Homo sapiens: one gene and its partner. The protein of the gene in region 1 purifies or fractionates together with the protein of each later gene. This does not show direct contact. Each region holds a gene or a part of one and is shown in the gene's direction. Other genes may lie near its edges.

The links.
Region 2: the proteins of TMEM51 (region 1) and GALC purify together in Homo sapiens (affinity purification with mass spectrometry; 3 studies listed by BioGRID and IntAct, with this or other methods). This does not show direct contact.

The regions. Positions count from the first base shown.
Region 1 is NC_000001.11:15,212,687-15,216,436, forward strand, and holds part of TMEM51 (transmembrane protein 51), read left to right. Parts: intron 1-2,208; 5' UTR 2,209-2,401; coding exon 2,402-2,745; intron 2,746-3,750.
Region 2 is NC_000014.9:87,944,555-87,948,304, reverse strand, and holds part of GALC (galactocerebrosidase isoform a precursor), read left to right. Parts: intron 1-426; coding exon 427-577; intron 578-2,571; coding exon 2,572-2,752; intron 2,753-3,750. UniProt on the Homo sapiens protein: Hydrolyzes the galactose ester bonds of glycolipids such as galactosylceramide and galactosylsphingosine.

The DNA.
Region 1 (3,750 bases):
ACTGTAAGAAATAAATATCCTTGTGTACGGTCCCATCTGGTCCTACCGCAGCTGTCTGCAGTGGGATCCCTGTTCAGCGCCCTGCACGCCACACACATGCCCATCCTACCTGTTCATATTCCATACATATGCATGCATATGTACATAGGTGCTCGCACGCATGCACATGTGCTCATGTGTGCATAAACATATATGCACACGTGTTCATGCCCCAGTGTGCCTTGGTGCTTCTTCTTAACTCCTTCAAGAGCAGAGCCAGTGCGTTCACGCACGTGCACATACACAGTGCTGTGCATTCAGGGTTCAGGCCCAATTAGGCCAGTGGGAATCCTCTCCCACATAGACTTTCTGTATGTCCCACAGCCCTGAGCTAGGACACCCTGCTGTCTAATCCCACAGTTCCTGTACTTCCTTCTTACTTTATTGGTATTCCCTATAGATCATTTTCCTGCTGGCCTAGAAGCTCTGCTAATCCTTAACTTGCTCACTGCTGTTTCTCCAGTGCCTAACTCGCTACTTAGGAGGTAGTGAGATGCACAAGAAATATTTGTTGGGTGAAAAAAAGAAGGAACAGACTTAAAGCTGATAAAGGATGTTGTTCCAAATATTTTTAGAGTCTCTTTTAACAAAGTGGCCAATTTCAGATAAACTCATGGTTTCACAAGAAAATATCTTCGCAGCATCAGATTTCAAGCAGCCTGGTCAGTCATCCTTTCGGAGAGACTGGAAAAAATGCAGAATTGAAAACAGGTCCTTGCCCAGCTAAACATCTTGTAAATTTTACTGTTTTGCAAAAGTTCCTGTCACAGGAATAATGTATGGGGGAGAGGTTTAGCAAGGGGCATTGCTTGCTCCTCCTCCTCAGTCCTTGAGAATGTTCTAAACTAAAGCCTTGAGTGACTGCTTCTCTGGCTCGCTCTCAACCAACAAATGCTGTGGAATCCCAGGACCGCTGGCTGCTCCCTTTAGCGCAGGGTCTCTGGGCTGCTTTGTGGAAAGAAGGTTTATTTTGTCCAGCTGGGCACAGGAGCGGAGAGGAAGAATGTGCAGGCCTGTGTCCCTTTTAACAAAGGGAGAACTCGATGTGGTTTCAGAGAAGCTTGTCTTGCTGGGTGACTTCATGTGGCCTGCATTCATTTCATCCAACATTGACTCTGCAAACTTTTTTTTTTCGAGACAGAGTCTTGCTCTGTCACCCAGGCTGGAGTGCAGTGGCACAATCTCGGCTCACTGCAACCTCCATCTCCCAGGTTCAAGCAATTCTCCTGCCTCAGCCTCCCAAATAGTTGGGATTACTGGCACGTGCCACAGCACCCAGCCTTTTTTTTTTTTTTTTTTGTATTTTTAGTAGAGACGGGGTTTTACCATGTTGGCCAGGATGGTCTTGATCTCTTGACCTCGTGATCCATCCACCTCGGCCTCCCCAAGTGCTGGGATTACAGGCATGAACTCTGCAAACATTTTTTGAGTCCCTGCTGTGTGCCAGGCTTAGAGATGATGACAATGTGGTCATGGGAAGAGAGAGACTCACCACGGTGGTTGCTGGAGGATTTGGGGAGCACATGAAAGGGGCATCTGAGCTATGGGTGACCAGAGAAATGTTCTGGAGGGTGGTTGGGGGTGGGTAGTGCAAAGAAAGGCAGGCTGAGACATGCAGTAGGAGAGGCAGGAGCCAGGCTAAGGCCACCATGAGCAGCATCATTCTAAGAAGCTGGATTTTCTCCTGCAGGAAGTAGGGAGCCATTGAGGGTGGGGAACAGATGACAGTAGGCTGTTTGGCCTGGTCATACCATTGGCTGAGGCCCTGTCCCCCAGGTGAGTCTGTTACAACCATCGATTGTGGACCATTCATCCCATCGCTCACTCTCCCAGCAGCCTCCAGCAAGAGCTACGATTTTACTGCACTTCATTAAATTCCACACAATGTTTTAATGACCTGAGCTCCGACCTTTCTGGCCTCCAGCAGGGAAAGGTCTGGCTTTTCCTTTTCAGGGAGTAGCGGGCTGGGCAGACCGGCCTCCCTTCTCGCAGCCTCGCACAAGGAGCCTGAGCACGTAAGACATCTGGAATGCATCAAAGGCGAGGCCCAGCCAGAGCCGGCGTGCTCGGTGCTGCTGCCTAACTCCTTCAAGAGCAGAGCCGCCACATTCACAAAGCGTCTGGAATCGGAACTGATCGTCCTCTCTGCTCTTTCTGCTTTCCTTCCAGGCCCTTCCACCGCAGCCATCCGCACGGGAGGCCTCGCGATTGCTCGGAACCATCCCGCAGGAGTTCAGCTGATATTTTCTAGTGTGGGGCGAGAGATTTTGTGGAGCGCATTTAAGGGGTTTTTGTTGTGACTGCTGCCTTGTATACATTTATTTTCTTTCTTGGAACTGGGCCTCGCCCTCCTCCCACTGACATGATGGCCCAGTCCAAGGCCAATGGCTCGCACTATGCGCTGACCGCCATCGGCCTGGGGATGCTGGTCCTTGGGGTGATCATGGCCATGTGGAACCTGGTACCCGGCTTCAGCGCGGCCGAGAAGCCAACAGCTCAGGGCAGCAACAAGACCGAGGTGGGTGGCGGCATCCTCAAGAGCAAGACCTTCTCTGTGGCCTACGTGCTGGTCGGGGCCGGGGTGATGCTGCTGCTGCTTTCTATCTGCCTGAGTATCAGGGATAAGAGGAAGCAGCGGCAGGGCGAGGACCTGGCCCATGTCCAGCACCCGACAGGCGCTGGGCCTCACGCCCAGGAGGAAGACAGGTGAGGCCTGACTGTCCCCTTCCCTCCCCGGATCGGGGATGGGCACGCACGCATGCACACACATGTTCACACCTTTCCGTGGTGAAAAGACTGTCATCTACAGGCTTTATTGTCCCATGTTCGCCCATGACGCCTCTGTCAAAACGGTTTATCATTTTACAAATAACTTTAGACTTTTCTACCAGAGCTTCCCAAATAGCATGGTACAAATGGATTACAGGTAAACCAAGATTTTTTAAAAATTTTATTACAATAGATTTTTACACCATGGAATACTATTCAGCCATAAAAAGGAACAAAATACTGTCTTTTGGGCCAGGTGCAGTGGCTCACTCCTGTAATTCCAGAACTTTGGGAGGCCGAGGCAGGTGGATCACTTGAGGTCAGGAGTTTGAGACCAGCCTGGCCAACATGGTGAAACCCTGTCTCTACTAAGAATACAAAAATTAGCTGGGCATGGTGGCACATGCCTGTAGTCCCAGCTACTGGGGAGGCTGAGGCATGAGAATCGCTTGAACCCAGGGGAGTGGAGATTGCAGTGAGTGAGCTGAGATACCGCCACTGCACTCCAGCCTGGGTGACAGAGTGAGACTCTGTCTCAAAAAAAAAAATACAAAAACAAAAAACTGTCTTTTGCAGCAACTTGGATGGAGCTGGAGGCCATTACTCTTAAGTGAACCAGCATTTTGACCCGCCCAGGGTCACTGAACAGGGCCTGGGGTGGCCAGCATATTTGCTTGTCCCTTCACCCCAGCATGCTGTGTGTATGCTTTAATTTGAAATGGCTGGGAAGCAATTTTCCATTTGAGCAAAAATGCCACCAACAAATTTAAAAGATAAGTGATACATTGGGGAAGATATGATAATAGTTGATATCCCTATTATAAAAAGAGCTCTTAGAAATGAATATGTAAGATGAATATACCAATAGGAAACAGACAAAGATTATGAATATTCCATAGATGTTCAACCAATAGATGTTCAACTTCATTAGTCATGAAATGC
Region 2 (3,750 bases), on another chromosome or scaffold:
AGGATTTCTGTGATTAACAGCTGGGTCGACAGTGATATTTTATGAATTTTTTTACCTTAGTAAATTACTGAGAGAAAAAAGCAGGTCTCTTAGTTGCATGTATCGAATATATCCAAGCTTTAAGGAGCTTACTGTGTAGTGGAAAAGAATAGGCTAATAGAAATAGATTTTGAGATTATTTAGTCCTTCCTTCCATGAAGTAAGGTTGTTTAAAATTATAAAGCATAATTTTATAAAGTTTTCTAAAATACTTAGGAAAAAAAGATTCCAAGGGCCTTGATATTGGTGAGTTTTCCACAAATGTTTAGGAAGTTCTAACAGAAATGATTTGGACTTTTCTTTAAGCTAATTTTTTTAAAGCTATTCTGTCCACATGAGATGAGCTATAGTACCTGGTCCTGAATACAGTAGTGTCTTCTTTTTCAGCTCCTTGACAGCGATGGCAGTTTCACACTGAGCCTGCATGAAGATGAGCTGTTCACACTCACCACTCTCACCACTGGTCGCAAAGGCAGCTACCCGCTTCCTCCAAAATCCCAGCCCTTCCCAAGTACCTATAAGGATGATTTCAATGTTGGTGAGTATTTTTCACTAAAACTTAACTTGGTCTCTATATTTAACAGTAGTGTGTTGATTTCTACCTGTCAAACTGGGTGCATGATGGAGTGGCTGTCAAAAGCACATTCATTTACCTCCTACATCTCATATGCGGTAAAAGGAGGGCTAATTTTTTGCATTACTTTATGGTAAATCTAAATTTGAGGACCCTGTATTTTTCAGTTTCAGAAAAAAATATAGGGTTCATTGTTAGAATGAAAGTTATAGTTCTGATTTGTTTTTGGTGAAACTTAAACTTTGTAACTTTGCTACTGCCCCATTAGCCATTACTGACATCTTCCTTCTGTGTGGAGGTTAAGACACATTCATATCTGTCTTTCTGCAGTGCTAGTGAACTGAGTGCTTATGGGCAGTTATGTTGTCCTTGGCTGATCCAACTCATTATATACCATCCCGTGCTTTTTTTTTAATTGAGCTTTCTTGGTTTTCTAGGAAGATCTGTCCTAAAGTTGTTAGAAAAGTTTTTGGTTATAGGTGATTTAGGAAAACCACTTGGAAAAAAGTTAGAAGACATGGTCATTGTAGTTATATTCCTAGTGAGTAAGTAACAAAATTTGTTGACTGCTTGGTGGTGTTCTGTAGGTTTATGGGTCTCACAGACAGGGTCAGGTGGCTTTGTAATCTGCTCCTAAAATCTGTAGCAGCAGGAGAGTAATAGGGAGGGAGCTGGCATTGCTGGAGCATCACTTGAAGCTCCTGTTTGCTGCAGAGCTGCTTGTTCCACCAAAGATGGACACTCCTATCACCCTTTCCCAGTCACTGCTACAGGGTCTCGCCTCCCTTTCTCAGGAAATGATCTAGTTGGCTGGAGTATAAGGCCTTTTGGACTGTGTAATGGAGTCCTCTCAACTATAATACAGACAACAGTGATCCTCAGGGGGAGCTTGGTGGTTTGTTTTTCTGCAACTCTTTGAAATGGCCTCTTAGATAAACCCATTAATTTTGTGAAACACAGGGTCTTTAAAATCTGTTGCTCGCTTGGTTCTCTGTTAGCAAAAGTGACTTTTGCCTTCAGTAAGTGAGGAATCTGTGTGGGATATGGCCTAGATAATGAGATTGAAGAACTGCCAGCACCAAGACCAATATTTTGTGACCCTGAAGACTAAGAGGCAATTTCAAACCTTCAAATATAAAATGTAATACTTTATGAGCTACAATATAAATTTAAAACTAAGTTAAATATTATAAGCTAGGCTCTGGAGATACTTGTTAGGGTTCTAAATGTCTCAAATGAGGTAATGAATGCAAAAACACTTGGAAAAGCATGAGGTATAAGAGCTATAAGATATGTAAAATTTCTCCTCTACAGCATTCATTATTGTAAGACTATAATTTAATTTAGTAAAACTAAAAAGGGATTGATAACTTAGGCCCAAAACTGGTTTTTGCTGCAGTTTAGAAGTAGAAGAAAATTTGTAAATTTTATGCTTGATATAGTAAACCTTTCTTATGCTCTTTTGGCAGATGATTGTGACGCATGATTTGGAACCTTGCTTGACAGATATTAGAAATAATAAAGCTATCCCTTATTGAGCCCTTGCCAGGTGCTGGCTTATGTACCTGTTATCTTTTCTTTAATTCTCTTGTCCTCCTGCAAACCTGGAAATGAAGAAACTTTAGATGCAGGGCAGTTAAATAGCTTGTCCAGGGCGACAGACTGAACTCGAATTTGAATCTAGGTCTTACTTCAAAACTCATGACCTTTCCTCTACACCAGATGCCTGGATTAAATATTATGCAGCATCTATATGTCGAACTCATCATCTTGATATTTAGTAATGATGATACAAAAATTAATGTATCTTTATTAGACCTAGGCCCTAAACTTTGGTTTAGATTTTATTTATTTATTTAAAAGCTTTCAGAAGTGTTTCAGACATACTATAAAATATCAGCAAGGAGAGCTTCTGAAGGATTTGATACTAAACAGAGAATTTCTTACATTCTGAACAGATTACCCATTTTTTAGTGAAGCTCCAAACTTTGCTGATCAAACTGGTGTATTTGAATATTTTACAAATATTGAAGACCCTGGCGAGCATCACTTCACGCTACGCCAAGTTCTCAACCAGAGACCCATTACATGGGCTGCCGATGCATCCAACACAATCAGTATTATAGGAGACTACAACTGGTAAGATTGATGTTCTCAATGTGGATCTGGCTGAAATACCCTTGTAATATTGTCAGGTACATTTTGAAGTGAAGAGTTTTCAATGGTCCTCCTATTTCAAGAACCTAATAGATGTGTAATATGTAATATTAAGGGTTGTTGAATAGTATGGTGATGACCACAAAGCTGCAAATTGTTTTGCTGCCCCAGTGTCCTTCCCTCATTTTTGCCCTATTTAATAGTGATTATTACAGGAGCAATTTGATTCCAGTATAAAAACTAAGGACTTTTGGACCCAATTATAATTTAATATTTGTTTATAAATAGACGGATTTGTGAGGTATTTTTAAGTTTTTGTTTTGCTGGAGAGTTGATTTGTTGATCTGGTGTTGCCATCTAGTGGACCAATCTTAGAATTACACCGTCTTAGCCTTATTAAAAGATTTACCAGGTGACAGTAGATGGCAATAGTAAAAAGCTAATCAGCTTTAGTCGCCTAGTGAATTTAACTTTTTATTTAGTCATCTGGTAAAGAGACAAGTTATATTATTCACATAAAATATAATGCCAAACTAAAACTTTCCCTTCCTCTTTAGTTACAGAATTTCTATGTGCTGACTTATTCCACCTGTCATGTGTTTCTTTTTCATTTTTTCCTATAACTAGTATGATTCCACTGTGGGAAAAGAAACACATACACATTCCAGGTTTAGAGCTAGTACTAGTAATACCAAGCCACCAAAAAGCCATATCCGAAGCTTGGAAACTGGAGAGGGAAGAGAAAAGAATTCTGAAAAGAGCCTTGAATTGCCTGTCTATGGAGTGTGCAGAAAGTGTTTATCCCTCCTGAAGTGCCTTACTCCCAGTTAGAAATCCTGATTCTAGTCCCAAGCTCTGACATAAGTCTTAAGAAACTTTTAGTTATCCAGAGCCCCTGGAACCCTTATAACACTATGAAGAGTTATTGAGGTGCAGTGAAGAATTCCTTCCTAATTTAGGATGACATTTGTGGCTTGTGT